Linked DNA regions of Homo sapiens: region 1 is linked to region 2. The links come from fine-mapping of genetic effects on gene expression. A gene starts in region 2. The other region holds a variant in brackets. All regions are shown on one strand. Distances are between the middles of the regions. Region 1 holds the start of SLC16A13 (solute carrier family 16 member 13). Region 2 holds the start of RNASEK (ribonuclease K).

What was found. PIP is the estimated chance that this variant, and not a neighbour inherited with it, causes the effect. A credible set is the group of variants that fine-mapping cannot tell apart.
Region 1: its variant is the best candidate, but not a certain one, in a credible set for the expression of RNASEK in whole blood (TOPMed, PIP 0.89).

Annotation. Positions count from the first base shown.
Region 1 is chr17:7,032,956-7,038,406 of GRCh38, forward strand. It overlaps SLC16A13 (solute carrier family 16 member 13), which reads left to right and starts at 3,060. Exons shown (of 4, transcript NM_201566.3): 1 at 3,060-3,626; 2 at 3,772-3,915; 3 at 5,197-5,451. The coding sequence starts at 3,428. RefSeq lists enhancers at 2,499-2,999, 2,608-2,657, 3,388-3,627. The variant C/T (reference allele first, on the strand shown) is at 2,809.
Region 2 is chr17:7,010,536-7,015,716 of GRCh38, forward strand. It overlaps RNASEK (ribonuclease K), which reads left to right and starts at 2,089. Exons shown (of 3, transcript NM_001004333.5): 1 at 2,089-2,226; 2 at 3,131-3,207; 3 at 3,610-3,997. The coding sequence starts at 2,149. The coding sequence ends at 3,751. It overlaps ALOX12 (arachidonate 12-lipoxygenase, 12S type), which reads left to right. Exons shown (of 14, transcript NM_000697.3): 14 at 1-219. BACC1 (BPTF associated chromatin complex component 1) reads left to right here and starts at 4,247. Exons shown (of 6, transcript NM_174893.4): 1 at 4,247-4,343; 2 at 4,527-4,621. The coding sequence starts at 4,323. It overlaps ALOX12-AS1 (ALOX12 antisense RNA 1), which reads right to left and starts at 1,799. Exons shown (of 3, transcript NR_040089.1): 1 at 1,661-1,799. It also overlaps RNASEK-C17orf49. RefSeq lists enhancers at 1,450-2,070, 2,150-2,269, 2,350-2,529, 3,709-4,209, 3,960-4,089 and 1 more and a silencer at 4,180-4,629.

The DNA.
Region 1 (5,451 bases), 23 kb after region 2:
TGCCTCACCCTCCCGAGTAGCTGGGATTACAGGCGAGTGCTACCATGCCCAGCTAATTTTTGTATTTTTAGTAGAGACAGGTTTCACCATGTTGGCCAGGATGGTCTCAATCTCCTGACCTCATGATCCGCCCACCTCAGCTTTCCAAAGTGCTGGGATTACAGGCGTGAGCCACCCCGCCCAGCTGCTTCCATATTTCTATCAACATTCTAGTCATAAACACTTAACCAATCTCTAAAGAATTCCAAACTTTTCTTAGTCTTCTTGTCTTCTAAGACCTCTCCAGAATCTAGGCTTTTTCTAGCCTACTCCTCCAAATGCTTCCAGCCTCTGCCCATCACCCACTTCCAAAGCCACTTCATCATTTTCCGTTATTCATTATCAGCAACACCCCACTTCTTGGTACCAGTTTTCTGTCTCATTCAGTTCATTTTCTGTTGCTTACAACAGATTATCTGAAACTGGGTAATTTATAAAGAAAATGAATTTATTTCTTATAGTATGGAGGCTGAGAAATCCAAGGTCCAGGGGCCTCACCCTCTAGTGAGGGTTTTCTTGCTGATATGGACTCTCTGTGGCACAGGGTGTCACATGGCAAAGGGGGCTAAGCATGCTAATGTTCTAGCTTGGATCTGTCTGAAAAAGCCGACAATTCCCCTCCCATGATAACCCATTAATCTATTAACCTTTTAGTCCTTTATGATGGGGTTAATCTGTTAACCTATTAATCCATTATGGTGGGCTAATTCATGGGGATTAATTAATCCATTAATCCCATCCAATCACCTTTTAAAGTTTCCACCTCTCAGTACCGCCAAGTTGGGGATTAAGTTTCAATATGAGTTTTTGGAGGTAACATTCAAACCATCGCAGTGGTCGTTTCTCAATCTTTTTAAACCCATGACCTGGATTAGATTTTTTTTTTTTTTAATCAAAAAACAAAAACTAGGCAGGGCATGGTGGCTCACGCCTATAATCCCAGCACTTTGGGAGGCCCAGGCAGGCAGATCACCTGAGGTCAGGAGTTCGAGACCAGCCTGACCAAAATGGTGAAACCCTGTCTCTACTAAAAATACAAAAAATTTAGCCAGGCATAGTGGCAAACACCTGTAGTCCCACCTATTCGGGAGACTGAGGCAGGAGAATCACTTGAACCCAGGAGGTGGAGGTCGCAGTGAGCCGAGATCATGCCATTGCACTCCAGCCTGGGAGACAAGAGCAAAACTCCATCTCAAAACAAAAAACAAAAAACAAAAAAAAAAACACTAAACTAAAACCTTCCTTCACTTCCCACTACAGCAGCTTATCCCCTGTTGAAAATAACACCAATAAGACCAGCTAAGCTAATATTACTTGGCTCCTGCTGCATGTCAGCACATAAACTAAGCATTTTTAGTGCATGGATTTTCTAACTGAACCCCTTGGGCAACGCTTAATAGTAGGTACTATTATCCCCAGTTTACAGATGGGGAAACCAACTGAGAGATTCAGCATCTTGATCGAGTTAAGTAATAAAGTCAAGATTGGAACTGGGCCAGGCACGGTGGCTCACGCCTGTAATCCCAGAACTTTGGGAGGCCAAGGCTGGTGGATCACTTGAGGTCAGGAGTTCGAGACCAGCGTGGCCAACATGGTGAGACCTCGTCTCTACTAAAAATACCAAAATTAACTGGGCGTTGTGGTGGGAGCCTGTAATCCCAGAAACTCAGGAGACTGAGGCAGGAGAATCACTTGAACCCGGGAGGTGGAGGTTGCAGTGAGCCAAGATCATGCCACTGCACTCCAGCCTGGGCCACAGAGCAAGACTCCATCTCAAAATAAATAAATAAATAAATAAATAAATAAATAAATAAATAAATAAAAGACTGGAACTGTGATCTGATTCTAAAGACCCGAGTTCTTAATCACTATGTAATACAGCCACAGCAATTTCTGTATCTTTGGCATATTCCCCACCAGCCGACATTTTGACTCTTAGAAAGTATATATGTGTATTATTGATGATTACTTTTATTTCCCACATATAAAATTATTTAAGGCTCAATATGTCTTTTAAGACTACACACCTCCCTCCCTGCCTCCACTTCTTGTTTGCTGCTTTCCCCAGTAATCTGGGAGTGAACATTGAGTCCACGGTTTCAAGGTCAGGGTCCTGGGAAGTATGGCTTATAATGAAGGAACAGGAAATCCAAGCCATTGGTGTTATGGAGACTGGGAAGGACTGGGGAGTGTTTGCTAGGGGCCTGAGGACTACTTGGGTAAGAGGGGGCTGACTGCTCCAGTGGCCAGGGTCATAGTTTGTCTCTTTAGTCTACCCCACCATCAGATCAAAAAAGGTGGTTAGGAAGTGGTTGTTACTAGAGGGCAGAGGAAAAGGTTCCAGCCCCAGTGAGGAAGAGGTAGGTGGTGTTGGTGGGGCCCTGTGTGAGCTTACAGCCGCCCTTCCTCTCCTCAGTTATTTTTGGTCTCTGTGACCTGTAGGTTTCCTGTTAGTGGGAACAGAAGTGACAGGAACGAGTTCCCACTACAGAAATGAACGCCAGGAGTCCAACTCATTCCCCTTCTCTCTTCCCTTAGCCGTTGAACTTCTCAGGGATCCAGGCTTCTAGGTCTGCGTGCCTAGGGCTGCGTGTTAGTGGCTTCAGGCGCTGCGCCAAACACTTCGTTTGAGTCTCATCTCCTAACCCCTCCCCTACCCCCAACAGGGCCTTGCAATTCCTGGACCCCTCATTAAAGCAAGAGAGTCCTCTCCTCTCCAGACCCAGTTTACCCACCACTAACCCTTCCGTGTGGCTCTGGGTGCTGAAA[C/T]GGGGATGACTTGGCCCGCTAGGTGAAGAGGAGACGGAAGCTTCCTGGCAGTCCCCGCGTCACGTGGGGCCCTACCTAGTCAGCCTCCTAACGCCCCTCCTTACGCATGCGCCCATTCACTGCTGGTCCCCAACAATGCCTAAATCCCGCCCTGCCCTTCTCGTTCCGCCCCTGCCCGGGAGCCCCGCGTCCTCATTGGCGAGCTCCAGGGTGGCCCGGCCCGGACACCCCAGTGATAAAATAGATCATCTACACGGAAACTGGCGCGCTCCAGGGGTGGGGCCCAAACTCAGTTCCACCCTCTGGCTCCCAGCCGAACACCGAACCGGGACCGATCCGGCCCCGGCTTGAACTAGCTCAGCTCCGAGCTCGCGGAACCACGCCCCCGGGAGACTCTGGCCCGGCCAGCGCGGGCCAGGTCTTCAGTCCTATATCGCCCCGCCTTGGGAAAAGGTGCAGGGGCCTCTCGCCGCCTCGTCGGGCCCTTCCTCTCTACCTGCCTCTCCAACCCCTCTCGGCCCCGAGCCACCCGGCAGCGGGGGTGGGTGTGCAGAGGTGCGGCGTCCAGAACCCGGCTCCTGCAGAGGCTCTGGGTGGCAGCAGCCCTGTTACCGCTTAGATGGCGCGCAGGACAGAGCCCCCCGACGGGGGCTGGGGATGGGTGGTGGTGCTCTCAGCGTTCTTCCAGTCGGCGCTTGTGTTTGGGGTGCTCCGCTCCTTTGGGGTCTTCTTCGTGGAGTTTGTGGCGGCGTTTGAGGAGCAGGCAGCGCGCGTCTCCTGGATCGCCTCCATAGGAATCGCGGTGCAGCAGTTTGGGAGTGAGTGCGGCGCCTGGATCTGGCGGACTGCGACCCTCGGAAGGGAGAGGGAATGCGGCGACTGGGAAGTGGAAGGGCGAGGGGCGGGAGATGCTGGGGGGGAGACCCCTGAGATCTTCTCGCAGCGCCCCTTCCACTTCCTCAGGCCCGGTAGGCAGTGCCCTGAGCACGAAGTTCGGGCCCAGGCCCGTGGTGATGACTGGAGGCATCTTGGCTGCGCTGGGGATGCTGCTCGCCTCTTTTGCTACTTCCTTGACCCACCTATACCTGAGTATTGGGTTGCTGTCAGGTGAGAGCCTGCACAAGGGCAGGAGAGTCAAATGCTTAGATCGTTGGATGTTCACCTCCTTCCTGCTCCTTCCAAAGGGTTCGGGGAGAAGCTGAGGGAAAGTTTAGCTAGCACCTGTACCCAGAAGGGAATTCTTAATAGGAATGACTAAAGCGACAAACATGGTGAGGAATTAGGAAATTCAAGGATGATGAAACCTGGCCGGGCACGGTGGCTCACGCCTGTAATCCCAGCACTTTGGGAAGCCGAGGCGGGTGGATCACGAGGTCAGGAGTTTGAGACCAGCCTGGCCAACATGGTGAAACCCCGTCTCTACAAAAATACAAAAATTAGCCGGGCCTGGTGGCGCTAATCCCAGTTACTCGGGAGGCTGAGGCAGGAGAATCGCTTGAACCCGGGAGGCGGAGGTTGCAGTGAGCCAAGATCGCACCACTGCACTCCAGCCTGGGCGACAGAGCAAGATTCTGTCTCAAAAAAAAAAAAAAAAAAGATGAAACCAAGTATACAAGCCCAGAAGCCCAGGGCTAATGGGACTGGAGTGTAAAAGGAAGAATTACTATAAAATGGTGCTAGGGGCCAGGCACGGTGGCTCACGCCTGTAATCCCAGCACTTTGGGAGGCCGAGGCGGGCGGATCACGAGGTCAGGAGATCAAGACCATCCTGGCTAACACGGTGAAATCACGTCTCTACTAAAAACACAAAAAATTAGCTGGGCGTGGTGGCAGGTGACTGTAGTCCCAGCTACTCGGGAGGCTGAGGCAGGAGAATGGTGTGAACCCGGGAAGCAGAGCTTGCAGTGAGCCGAGATTGCACCACTGCACTCCAGCCTGGGCGACAGAGCGAGACTCCGTCTCAAAAAAAAAAAAGAAAAAAAAAGGTGCTAGGTACTGTGACTGTGAAATCGATATCATTATTGGATTTACAGCTGGGGAAAAGCTTTAAAGCTTATACAACTTGGCAAATGAAGGTCACACAGCTAGAAATGGTAGAGCCCAGGTCTAACTCCAAAGTTCTGTGCTAGTTACCTTACAAACTTTGTCTCTAATCTTCCACAATCCCAAAAAGTGTATTATTACATTTTGCAGTTGAGAAGGTTGAGGCTGGGGGTGTTAAGTAAAACACACAAGGTTACACAGCTATGAAGTATCCAAGCCAAGATTGTATCCCAGGTCTGTGGGACTCCGAAGCAAGTGCTACATTCTGCTGCTGGGCAATGCGGGGATTACTGTGTGCCTTGAGCTCCCTAAGAGTTCTCAACACCACTTCTTCCTTTTTGACAGGCTCTGGCTGGGCTTTGACCTTCGCTCCGACCCTGGCCTGCCTGTCCTGTTATTTCTCTCGCCGACGATCCCTGGCCACCGGGCTGGCACTGACAGGCGTGGGCCTCTCCTCCTTCACATTTGCCCCCTTTTTCCAGTGGCTGCTCAGCCACTACGCCTGGAGGGGGTCCCTGCTGCTGGTGTCTGCCCTCTCCCTCCACCTAGTGGCCTGTGGTGCTCTCCTCCGCCCACCCTCCCTGGCTGAGGACCCTGCTG
Region 2 (5,181 bases):
CAGTTAAACCCCCTACATTAGTATCCCACTAGCCCAGGGGAGCAGTAAACTTTCTCTGCAAAGACTAGATCCTTTTTTACGCTTTGCAGACCGCATAGTCACTGTCTCAACTACTCAGCTCTCCTGCTGCAGCATGAAGGCAGCCACAGACAACATGGAAATGAGTGTGACTATGTTCCAATAAAACTTTATGGACACTGAGATATGAATGTTACATCACAAAGTAGTCTTCTTTTGGTTTATTCAACCATTTAAAATGCAAAAAAAATCCACAAACAAATGTGCTTTGTTTGAGACATGCACAGCCAGGCTACAGACTGGATTTGGCCCTTGAACCCTGCACTAGCCTGAGGCCCTGACCCTACTTCCAAAACATCCAAGATCATGGAGCAGGGGGATTTCTTAGAAAAATCAGCTTACCTCAGCTAACTCTCCATTCCCAGGAACTAACCTTCATGCCTGGTGGCCAATGTACAAATTCCTGACTCAGTTCTTTGGCAAATTCCTTCCACCCATATTTCTCCTATTCACCCATGTACCCCAAAAGTCCCTGAATAAGAATCATGTTTTTGGGGCAGAATACAAACCACTGCCCCAAAATGGCTTCTTTCTCCAAACAGTCCCAGATGAAAGGCACATAATTCATGTCTTAAGGCTACTTTTCCAGCCCCTTTAATACTCTGGGATCTATGTGTTTCCCACATTCCAAGTTATCTTTCACAAGCCTTTTAAGAACAACATGCACAAAATAAATGGACAAGAACTACAAAGTTATTCTAGCCAATGATAGTGTTTATTTGTTAGGTCCTGGGGTCTCAAGGTCAAATGATCCCTCTCAATTATTCTGAGGTCACTGTCCTCACTAGAGTGGGTACAACTTGCTCACTGCAAAACTGTGTTCTTCAAACATCCCTACTTCTTTTCTTTTCTTTTTTTTTTTTTTTTTAGAAGTAGTCTCTATCGCCCAGGCGGGAATGCAGTGGCGCCATCTCAGCTCACTGCAACCTTCGCCTCCCGGGTTCAAGGGATTATCCCGCCTCACCATCCCGAGTGGCTGGGATCACAAGCTCATGCCACCACATCCAGCTAATTTTTGTAATTTTTAGTAGAGACAGGGTTTCGCCATGTTGACCTGGCTGGTCTCGAACTCCCGACCTCAGGTGATCCGCCCGCCTCGACATTCCTATTTCTAAATAATTATTACAGATCTGTCACTCACCAGTTAAACATACAAACGGCTTTTTTGGAGGGGATGACCTATTTATATTTTTAAATCTTATATCCTACCTTATTCAAAAGTCCTATCAGTTTTCCTAGTTTAGAGAAGCAAAGTGACATTTTTGTGTACATTTAACAGGACTGCTTACCTTCACAACCTGCTCAGTCGGCTTTCCCTGGACTTCTCCTAACCGCCCATTTTTCCTGGATTTGGCACCGAGAGTTACAGTATTTCACGTGCGATGATAAAATGTTACTTAGGAGAAACAGTTCCAATACCAAGAAACTTCAGCAATTTTAAAGCATTTTAAAGCCACAAAACCATGCCCGATCCCCAAAAGGGGGTCCTAACTCCTTTACACTGTCAGAATCTCAATTTTAAAAGGGAGGAGTAGAGAAGAGATAGAAACGCTCTCTGTTGGTGAAAATCTGTCTTACTTACCATTTCCCCAACACAGGAGAGACTAAGGAATTTCAGGTAAAAATCAGATGGCTCCAATCCTCCGATACTAAGAGCCCATCGCCCCAGTTCCCAGGAGTTCCGCCAGTTAGACTTTTTCCCCCATGGCCTCGCTAAGGCTAGTTCCTCGTCACGTGACGTGACAGGCTTGGTCACGTGACATACCAGCTCCTTCCATTCCCGTGTGCGGGGGGAGGGGGACCAACAAACCGGAGGCCCTCGCTCTTCCAATACTCACGCCCTAGCTACAGAGGTCAAGGAAGGTTTCCCCAGGAGCAGTTTTGGTTTCAGACGGCGCCGTCTCCCGCGAAAGTCCTGAGAGGAGCCCAGCCTTTTCCGCCTGCCGCCCCCGGATGGGATGGTTGAGGCCGGGGCCACGCCCCCTCTGCCCCCCTGCGAGGGCATCCTGGGCTTTCTCCCACCGCTTTCCGAGCCCGCTTGCACCTCGGCGATCCCCGACTCCCTTCTTTATGGCGTCGCTCCTGTGCTGTGGGCCGAAGCTGGCCGCCTGCGGCATCGTCCTCAGCGCCTGGGGAGTGATCATGTTGGTGAGGGGACTCCCCGGCAAGGATCGGAGAGGGCCTGAGGGGCTCCGGGCTGGGAGGGCTGGGAGGCGAGGAAACTCTGGGCCGCAGGCAGGCCGGAGGGGCCGGGGATCTACAGGCCCCGGAGAAGGAGACAGACTGAAATTGAAAAATGGGAACTGTTCGAGACCAGCCTGACCAACATGGTGAAACCCCGTCTCCAATAAAAATACAAAAATTAGCCGGGCGTGGTGGCGCCCGCCTGTAATCCCAGCTACTCAGGAGGCTGAGGCAGGAGAATCGCTTGAATCCGGGAGGCGGAGGGTGCAGTGAGCCGAGATCGCGCCACTGCACTCCAGCCTGGGTGACAGAGCGAGACTCCGTCCCCAAAGAAAAAGAAAAAAGGGAACTGGAGCGGAGGGCCCTGGAGTGGGAGGAGCCAGGGCTGGTAAAGGTGGAGACCCCTCAAGGTAGGAGAAACAAGAGCGGGGTGCCTGAGAGGTGCTTGAGTTGAATGGAGGACATGGGAGGAAAAGAGAGTGCTTGTTCCAGAAATGTGTAGCTGGGCCTTGTTTTCCCAGTAATCCACCCACCGCCACTTCAAGAAGAAATGATATGAAGAAGTGCCGGTTCTCCCTCCCCTCTTCCGCACTGTCCCGTGATGATGACGCCTCCAGAGAGGACGATAATCTGGGTTCCTGGGAGAGATGGCTTGGTCACTATTCCCACCCTTGCCTCGACCACTTGTCTCAATGTCACCACCTCACGCCCTGTTCCAGGTGGCTGAGTCCGAATCCAGTAACCACCACCTCGTTTTGGTTAATCTCAGGCTCGGGTGTTGTAGCAACATTGGAAATGGGAGGGGTTTACGAAGTGAACATGAGGTCAGGTGCCTGAATTCAACAGTCTACCCATTCCCCTTTTCCAGATAATGCTCGGAATATTTTTCAATGTCCATTCCGCTGTGTTGATTGAGGACGTTCCCTTCACGGAGAAAGATTTTGAGTAAGTATTCGGGTGGGGGAGGCGGGCTGGGAGCAGGTGGGAGGTGGCGAGGCCTAGGGTCAGAATTACGTCTGGGAGGCCCGGTGCTTAGGGCCCCTAGGTTAGAGGACTTGGAGAGGAGAGCGGCTTTCTTGAGAATGTGGTTAGGAGCCAGGGAGTCAGACCTCAGCGGCCATCCCAAACCCACCACCTTAGGTGTGACCTCTTTAGGTATTTTACTTTTCTGTGCTTCTCAGTCCACCTCTGCAAAATGGCTATGACAGATCTCACCCCATAGGATGGTCAAGAAGATTGAATAAAGTAATACACGTAACAGCGCCTAAACAGGTGTCGGGCACATAGTGCTCAGAAAATGTTGGCTCCTATTAAAGTTTGACCCCTTTGCTTCATTCCCACCCCCAGGAATGGCCCCCAGAACATATACAACCTTTACGAGCAAGTCAGCTACAACTGTTTCATCGCTGCAGGCCTTTACCTCCTCCTCGGAGGCTTCTCTTTCTGCCAAGTTCGGCTCAATAAGCGCAAGGAATACATGGTGCGCTAGGGCCCCGGCGCGTTTCCCCGCTCCAGCCCCTCCTCTATTTAAAGACTCCCTGCACCGTGTCACCCAGGTCGCGTCCCACCCTTGCCGGCGCCCTCTGCGGGACTGGGTTTCCCGGGCGAGAGACTGAATCCCTTCTCCCATCTCTGGCATCCGGCCCCCGTGGAGAGGGCTGAGGCTGGGGGGCTGTTCCGTTTCTCCACCCTTCGCTGTGTCCCGTATCTCAATAAAGAGAATCTGCTCTCTTCAGCCCTGTGTCTGTGCTTGAGTGGGGGCGAGCACGGGGCTGAGACTAGAGGTCGGCCTCTGCCTGGAAAGTCCCGATGTCTGAGCGGAAGTGGAGCGAAGTGTGGCGCGGAAGTGAGGCGAAGGCTTTCCCCATCGACTGGGCGCGCCGAGCGGTCTAAGCGACTGCGTCTGATGGGGCGGGGAGCCGCCGGGTTGAGCCTATCCGCTGCGGGGAGGGCGGGACTTCCTGCGCGGGGGCCCGAGCCGCTCAGTCTCCCTGCTCTCCGTGGTCCCGGCTCGCGTGTAGCGGCGGCGGCGGCGTCTCCGTGAGGAGGCGCGCGGGGCCATGACGTCAGCGTCCACAAAGGTTCGACCTCCCTCGCGGACAGCGCTCCCTGGCGGCCACGGGAGGGCGGGCCCCCCACTTGGCTCGCGGCTCTTCCGCCCCGGGCGGGGGGCGGGCGGGAGCCGAGCCTGGGGTGGGGCTAGGGGCTCCGGGCGGGACGGGGAGGGCGGGCGCCGGCCCCCCGTGACGCTGCCCCGCCCCCAGGTCGGAGAGATCTTCTCGGCGGCCGGCGCCGCCTTCACGAAGCTCGGGGAGCTGACGATGCAGCTGCATCCCGTGGCCGACTCTTCTCCTGCGGGGTACGTGAGCCCGGACTGGGACGTGGACGCTGAGAGCGGGCGCTTGGACTCGGTCACAGACACGGACCCTCTCTAGCACAGGGACAGACATTAGTTTCCCTTTGTGCGTGGCACAGCACAGAGTCGGTGTTAATAAATGATCGTTGGGTGAGGGAATGAATGACAGATAAAAATACAGACAGGCCCATAGCCCAGACTCCTGTTTCACAGTTCTCCCTGCTGCGAACGGGTCGACCACAAACCACCGCCACTCCCAACCACCCCAGTTCATGGAATTCCCCCAGACGGCTGCAGGCTGTGTTGGTGGGTCTGTTTTGAAAAGCCCTTCCTGGCGAGTTGGTTTCAGTGTGCTGTGTACAGCAGCCGTTTAACGTTGATGGTGGAAAGGGGTGTCTAAGGTGGAGGTGGTTGTGATTTCTTGTGATTGGGGTCCTCCCGGTTCCCGCAGGGCCTCAAGAGCTTTCCGCCTCCCCTTACGGAGGACCTCTTTATGCATCCGTGGAAGGGGTCCCAGAAATCGGAAGGAGGCGGCTGGTTGGCTGTGGGATGCATAGCCTGTG